Linked DNA regions of Homo sapiens. The protein of the gene in region 1 interacts with the protein of each later gene in a pairwise test. Each region holds a gene or a part of one and is shown on either strand. Other genes may lie near its edges.

Region 1 (3,651 bases):
GAGGCACCATTCTAATAGCCCTGAACGACCTCAGCAGCTCCTGAAGCAACGTCTGTTTTTGAATTTTACTTAGGGCTAAGTATCAAGAAAGGCTCTGCCACTGTGTTTTCTCCTATTAACAATTAGCATGATGTAATTTACATGTTTTTCCTTTCAAGTTCACCTCCAGGGAGCTAACAGCCATATCTGCAGATGGATTCTGACACCAGATATAAGTGTATGATCTGAACATGTTCTGTGTTTGATCCTAATCTGTACCTCCGACTCTACACCGTGTTTTTCCTGGTCCTAATTATTTTCACTTTTCATTTCTATTTCATTCTTTTCTTAGAATTGCTTCCTATCACTGACTTCTAAGCCTCTGCACTGGGCCAGGGGAACAGGGAACAGCTTACCTGGGAGTGGGTGACCACTCTCTATCCGAATTAGGGTATGAGGCTGACTGAGGGTAAATCACAGCCAGGGAGAGGTTTTCCTCAGGAATATCATCTTGGAATGGAGGTATATCATTAGGAAGAGTTCTGGAGGAAAAAAAAAAAGATTAAAGTCAAAGAATTCTTAATGATAGATTCATAATCAAGTTCCAATTTTTTCTTGATTAGCTCTAAGTGCTTTGTAATTAACATGATCTCTTTAAACACCCAGATCTGTTCCAGGCAGTGGAGGGGGAAAAAGTGAGATACCGGCATCCATAAACGTGTCTATGTGCTAATGCTTTGGCCGAATTCTAATTGTAAAATGATTTTGTTTCAGCATTTGGACTCAGACACACATGCAGTGATCACACTGCTGGATCCTCCCATCGTGCCACCTCCTGCTACCCTACACGGTCATGTTCCAAAAGCCTGGGAGGTAGAGTGGCCCCAAACCGGCCCCAGGGCGGTATAAAACCCCTGCCAGGTACAGGCAGAACTGCTGAATAACTCAATGACCATACGCTGATCACATTTTGTCTAGCAGAAGAAATAAATGGCATCAACCAAACATGCCTTACGATTACAGAATAACTGCAAATGACCTCGTTTCAGGTATAAGCACACTCACTACTAAATACAATTCACAATTTCAATCATGCAGAGGCCATCTGTCTATATGTTGATGTTACCTGGAACACCTACCACTAAATTTTGTACTTAACAGCCATGCAGAGAAGGCAATTATAAGAAGCCCAATGACGCTGGTTCTAAGCCTGTCACAGGTTAGATAGAGGCTGTAGTTGGGAAAAGCAATATTCGTTGCCAGTTGACATTTATTTTTCACCACGAAAAAAGATATATTTTATTCCAAATAATGACACAGGAAGATACTCCTGATTCCCCTTATCCCTTCTTTATGTTAACAAAATTATCAAAAATTATACCGAATTATGTAAAAATCTGAAACATCAAATATCCTTCAAAATGAATTTTATCTTTTAAAACTGGCATTTTTCACCAAAATAGTAATACATACAAACAGAATTTCACCACACTGTTAAAAGCAAAGAAAAAGGAAACAAAATTTCCATTAAACTTTGGACCTAAGTCAAAATTAAAAAGGAAAAAGTTGGCTTATAGAGAAAACAGCATTTTCTTCATTCACTTTTAAGCCTGAAATCAGCCCTTGCCTATAAATCAGCCCAGTTGTGCATCGTTGGTGCTCAAATAAGAATAAATAGGTTCCAAGAAAATGGGTTTGGTCATGAACTATTAATTTGCTCAGTTCCTGTTTCTTGACTCCATTCCAGGCTGCTAAAGCGATCAGCCAAGGAGGTTTGGCATCACCAACTGTCTCTTGGCTACAGCACAGCAAATCTTTATACCACTCTAGGATTGGGTCCACATGATTCCAAAATTCAGCCTAAAATAGGGGTCCCCAACCCCTGGGGTCCATGCCCCTGTTAGAAACTGGGCCACATGGCAGGAGGTGAGCGGCGGGCAAGCTGGCAAAGCTTCATCTGTGTTTGCAGTCGCTCCCCATCCCTCACATTACCACCTAAGCTCCTCCTCCTGCCAGATGAGTGGCAGCATCAGATTCTCACAGGAGCACGAACCCTGTTGTGAACTGCACATGTGAGGGATCTGGGCTGCGCACTCCTTGTGAGAATCTAATGCCTGATGATCTGTCACCCATCACCCCCAAGATGGGACCGTCTAGTTGCAGGAAAACAAGCTCAGGGCTCCCACTGATTCTACATGATGGCGAGTTGTATAAGTATTTCATTATATATTACAATGTAATAGTAATGGAAATAAAGAGCACAATAAATGTAATATGCTTGAGTCCTCCTAAAACCATCCACCCCTGGTCCATGGAAACACTGTCTTCCACAAAACTGGTCCCTAGTGCCAAAAAGGTTGGGGACCACTGGTCTAAAACACATAAAAGAATAAGGAATTATGGGGGAAAAGTTCATAAAAATAATCTTGAACAGTTAACTGTCTGATTCTGGCACAGCCCCTCCACCCTGGACAGTTATTACCTGCTGCTCTCCAGCAGCTCCATGGCCTCATCCGAGCTCATCTCGATGGGGAACATGTCCTCATCCTCAGATGTGTTCATGTTGTCATCTCTCTTCAGGCTGTCCAGCTGTGACTTTCTCCTCCTTTTTCTTCTCTTCTTTACTACAGAGCTGCTTGACGGCGTCTCGCTGGGAGCGATCACTTGGGCTGGCGTGCTGGGGTCCAGGCCTCTCATCCTGTCCACAGAGCCCCTTTTCAGCTGGCATTCCATTCTCGAAGCTCCTTCTGACAGGATGGGGGAGGTGGCCAGGTGCATAGGGATAACTTCCTAAGAAAAGAACACATTTTCTAAAAAGAGCCTCGTTAATTCAGGTATAAGAAGCAGGGCCTTGCCAGAGGCCTCCAGGATTCACTTCAGAGGCCAAGCACCTCCTGGGGAGGGCCACAGCAGATGGCCCAGCTAGAGGCCACAGCCATGGTGACCTGGAGATGTGGCTGCCCAATCTGGTAGAAGATCAGAAAGCCAACAATGTATTGAATGCCACTTTGTACTCAATCCTGCATTTATGTAATTTTAACAATGGGAGGTAATTCTCAGTGATCTCAAGCCCCCAAAATTCAACTTTGGCTGTAATACCCAGAGCACAGAGGAAAAAAATGGGCTTTGACTCACCATATTATGCTGGGAATTGGATGCACTCTTGCACTTCTGTGTAGATGTGGGTGTGCATGGGTGGGTGTGAGAGAAAGACAGAGAATGTGTATTGTGTATTTTTTATATGCAATGAATTAAGATAATAACCATCTAAAAACCAAAAACACGTAAAACAACCGATAGCCCCGCCCAAGAACCTGCCTGCACCAGGGCCCAAGGAGGGCCCTGAACATCGAGGAAGTAGATACTGATCCTCTCCTTAAAGACAAAAGGAAAAAACACAACCTGTCCATTTAGTAGTTGTTTGTAATGATTCAGCAGTTTTTATAAAACTCTAGTAATCATTTTATTAATGAATGCCTCATTTTGTATGAGAAACTCGTTGACAATAAGAATATACATAAAACAGAGGGGATAAATAAACGTGTGCTGCTGATCATTCAAATAGGTTTGGAGAGCATCAGACATGCTGAAATAGAATGTCTACACCTGAGACACACAGCTGAGGCTGGAAGGGAGTGAGAGGTCATCTCACCCGGCTGCTGGACTGGAGCA
Region 2 (3,651 bases), on another chromosome or scaffold:
AGGCAGGGGAGGCAGTTGGCCCAAGCCCGAGTAGCCCCGGGCCTGCCTCAGGCGCTCCCAGAGTGCCCAGCGCTGCTGCTACAGGGACAGTCTCTGGGCCTCAGGCATCTTAACTGCTATGGCCCAAAAGGGCTGCCTGCACCTGGCAGAGTCCAGAATGGAGACTAAAACATCCCACACTTCCCACATGACAACAGGCGCGGCCAGCCAGCTTGGCACCCATCCTCAGCCCCAGGGCCTGGCCAGCACTAGGAGGAGCTCACCGGGGTGATCTCAAGCTTCTATCCTATACCTGCCCCATGAGAATATTACAGGTGGGGAAACTGAGGCACAGAAGGCTTTGGTGACGTGCTCAAAGTTAGCAGCAAGTGCACGTCTGGGGAAGCCTGTGCCTGTCACCACCATCCTAAGGTAGTCACAACCTTAGCAAACCAAAGACAGGGGCCCTGTCCTTCCCTGCCCTCCTTGGTGCAGCTCCGCAGGGAGATCAGACACCAGCCACCCGCAGCCCACACTCCAGCCGCCCAGGCCCCCCTGCCTCCCCTGCCTGTGCCCGGAGCTCACCGTGATCTGGACAGCCAGCAGGCCCTCCCCGGCGTCCTTTGCATCGATGGTGAACTCCACGGGCAGGCTGGCAGGCACGCCAGTGGTGTTGAGCCCGGGGCCACTGGCCTTCACCTTGCTGGCATCATGAGTAGGCAGCACCTTGACCTTGAAGGGGCTGTGAGGGATTGGTGTTGTGAGCAGTCAGACAGGTTCTCAGCATCCAGCCTGGGCCACTCCCCACAGGCAGCAGGCCCTGCCTCTTACCTCCGGGGTACCTCTTCATCTCCATACAGTACTGAGATGCTGTAGGGCCCTTCTCGGCTGGGCACATAATTGACGGTCTGGGTGCCATCAGCGTTGTCTACCACGTCCACTGGCTCCACCAGGCCTGGCCCCAGCCCCAGGGACAGAGCATCAGCTAGTCTCCTGGGCCTCCATTCCTACCCCACCACACTGGACGGCCAGGACCCAGCCCCAGGCCTAGACCTCGCTTTATCCTCATCCACCCGACCCTGGGAATGGCCTTGACCCCCTCTGGCACGAAAGACACCCATCTGGGTGCCAGCTGGGACCCTTGCCTGCCTGCCTTCCTGCCACATCTGCTCAGTGACCAGTCCCATCTGCTCTACCTCCTCCAAGTCCCCCACCTGGCTGCACTGTCACCTGAGGCTCTTCCAAAAACACCTACACACTTGCACCACCTCTGCACTCTGGTCCTCACTTTGGGCCTCCAGTTTCCTTTCCCGGCCCTCAAACAGGACACTGCCCTCCTGACCCCTGGCTCCAGGCATGCAAACACTCACCTTTGGGCCCTTGCACTTTGACCTGCAATGGGGCCACACCAGCCTTGCTTGTGTCCACCTGGAAGGACTGAGGGAGGTTGGCACGAACCATGCCTGGGCTCAGGCCGGGCCCAGAGCACTTGACCTTGGACGCATCTGTCACATCATGCACAGGGACCTTGAAAGGACTGCCTGAGGGTTGGGGCAAAGGGATGGCGGCTGTATGAGACAGGGTGGGGACGAGCAGACAGTCCCAGCCCTGCCCTGGCCGCCACCTCCTCACCTGGCACTTGATGGCCACCATAGGTGACGTTGAGGCTGTAGGTGCCAGCCTCATAAGGGATGTACTCGACCGAGCAGCTGCCGTCCTTGTTATCCATGCAGGACATCTTGGCCTCGGAGGGGCCCTCTACAGCCAGGCCCAGGCCGCCCGTGCCAGCTCCCCTGGTCCAAACAGACAGCCGGTCATTCCTGGGGTTCCCAGGCCCACCAGCCACACGGGCTCCTGGGGGCTCCCTTACCTGGTCTCCACAGTGAACTTGTTGGGCTTGTTGGTGGTGCCACTTTGGATGCCTGGCCCGTGGACACGCACCCGGGAGGGGTCGCAGCCCTCGGTCACGGGCACCTGGAAGGGGCTGCTGGGCACGGGACTGCCGTCATAGGTCACGTCCACGGAGTGCAGTCCTGGAGGAGTGCAGGCCAGGTCAGGAGGAGCCCGGGCCACCCCACCCACCCCGTCTGCCAGCCTGTGGGAGTCCCCAGCACGCACCCTCCTCGTAAGGCGTGTACTCCACTTTGTACATGCCATCGCCACGGTCCTGAACGTAGGTCTCCGTCAGGTTGCCTGAGGGGTTGGCCACACGGGCCTTGACGTGCGGCCCTCCGGTCTGTGTCAGAGCCCGGGCGTCCACACTGAACTCAGTGGTGGCCTCACGGAAGACACCTGCAAAGGCACAGAGAGGAGGCTTGGGGCTCGGGGGTTCTGGTCCCTGTCCCCCGTCACATACCCCACGGCAGGGCAACTCACCCTGGCCCTCAATACCAGGCCCATAGCACTGGACACCGGAAGTGTCCACCGCAGGTTCCACCTGCAGCTTGCTGGGGAAGTTGGGCACGGGCTGGCCGCCGTACTTGATGGTGACGGTGTAGGCCCCGGGGCAGAGGGGAATGTAGGTAATGGTGTGCGTGCCATCACCGTGGTCCTGGATGTACACCTCGGCCGGAAGCCCCGCCTCCGAGCAGATCTCAATGGTCAGCTCCGCGCTGCCCGCGCTCGAGCAGTCCACTTGGAATTGGCCCACCTCCCCAGCGGTGGCCCGCTCCAGCCCGGGGCCTGAGCACTTGACTTTGGATGCGTCAAAGCAGGGAACCACGTGGGCCTTGAATGGGGAGCCAGGGATGTGGGTGTCAGCGAAGAGGATGTTGATGTTGTAGTCCCCGGGCTCGGTGGGCACGTAGGACACGGAACATGTGCCATCCCCATTGTCCAAGCACTCGAGCTGCGCCTCACAGGGGCCCTCCACCGTCAGGCCCAGGCCACCTGTGCCGGCGCCCTTGGTGTCGATGGTGAAGCGGGCGGGGGAGCCCGCACTGCCTCCCTGCAGCCCCGGCCCAAACGCCTTCACCTGAGGGAAGAAGGGGTCAGGAGCCAAGGCCACACTATGCCCCGATCCCAGACCTCCTGCTTGACTTTCCACCTGCCTCCCCTTGCCCTGGCTTCCTGCCCTCACCAAACAGGGACACGGGCGGGCCCAGGCTGCCTGCCAGATGGGCCATCCATCAGTCATAAGGACAAAAAGGAGGGCAGGGCGCGGTCACTCACGCCTGTAATCTCAGCCCTTTGGGAGGCCAAGGTGGGTGGATCACCTGAGGTCAGGAGTTTGAGAACAGCCTGGCCAACATGGTGAAATCTCGTCTCTACTAAAATTACCAAAATTAGCTGGGCATGGTGGCGGGCACCTGTAATCCCAGCTACTTGGGAGGCTGAGGCAGGAGTATTGCTTGAAGCCAGGAGGCGGAGGGTGCCGTGAGCCAATATCGCGCCACTGCACTCCAGCCTGGGCGACAGAGTGAGACTCTTTCTCAAAAAAAAAAAAAAAAAAAAAAAAAAAAAAAAAGAAAGAAAAAAAAAAAAAAGAAATTCTTCAACCCTGATGACTTTTTGTGGGTTTCTATTTCCCTCCTCCCCTTTACTCTCACTTAAACAGGGTCAAGGTTGACAGTCTGTCTCAGGAAAAAAAAAAAAAAAAAAGGATTTAGGGCAGGTCTGGAGAAGATGGGGTACCTTTGGGGCCCTCAGAGAGCACAGTGGGTTCTACCCTTA

What was found. The genes of interacting proteins can lie anywhere in the genome.
Region 2: the proteins of LPIN1 (region 1) and FLNA interact in binary tests that used the Homo sapiens proteins (3 or more experiments, as listed by UniProt).

What each region holds. Positions count from the first base shown.
Region 1 is NC_000002.12:11,770,490-11,774,140, reverse strand, and holds part of LPIN1 (phosphatidate phosphatase LPIN1), read right to left. Parts: intron 2,770-3,651; coding exon 2,462-2,769; intron 522-2,461; coding exon 396-521; intron 1-395. UniProt on the Homo sapiens protein: Acts as a magnesium-dependent phosphatidate phosphatase enzyme which catalyzes the conversion of phosphatidic acid to diacylglycerol during triglyceride, phosphatidylcholine and phosphatidylethanolamine biosynthesis and therefore controls the metabolism of fatty acids at different levels.
Region 2 is NC_000023.11:154,357,635-154,361,285, forward strand, and holds part of FLNA (filamin-A), read right to left. Parts: intron 2,954-3,651; coding exon 2,356-2,953; intron 2,272-2,355; coding exon 2,098-2,271; intron 2,013-2,097; coding exon 1,850-2,012; intron 1,773-1,849; coding exon 1,612-1,772; intron 1,521-1,611; coding exon 1,350-1,520; intron 935-1,349; coding exon 811-934; intron 722-810; coding exon 565-721; intron 1-564. UniProt on the Homo sapiens protein: Promotes orthogonal branching of actin filaments and links actin filaments to membrane glycoproteins. Anchors various transmembrane proteins to the actin cytoskeleton and serves as a scaffold for a wide range of cytoplasmic signaling proteins.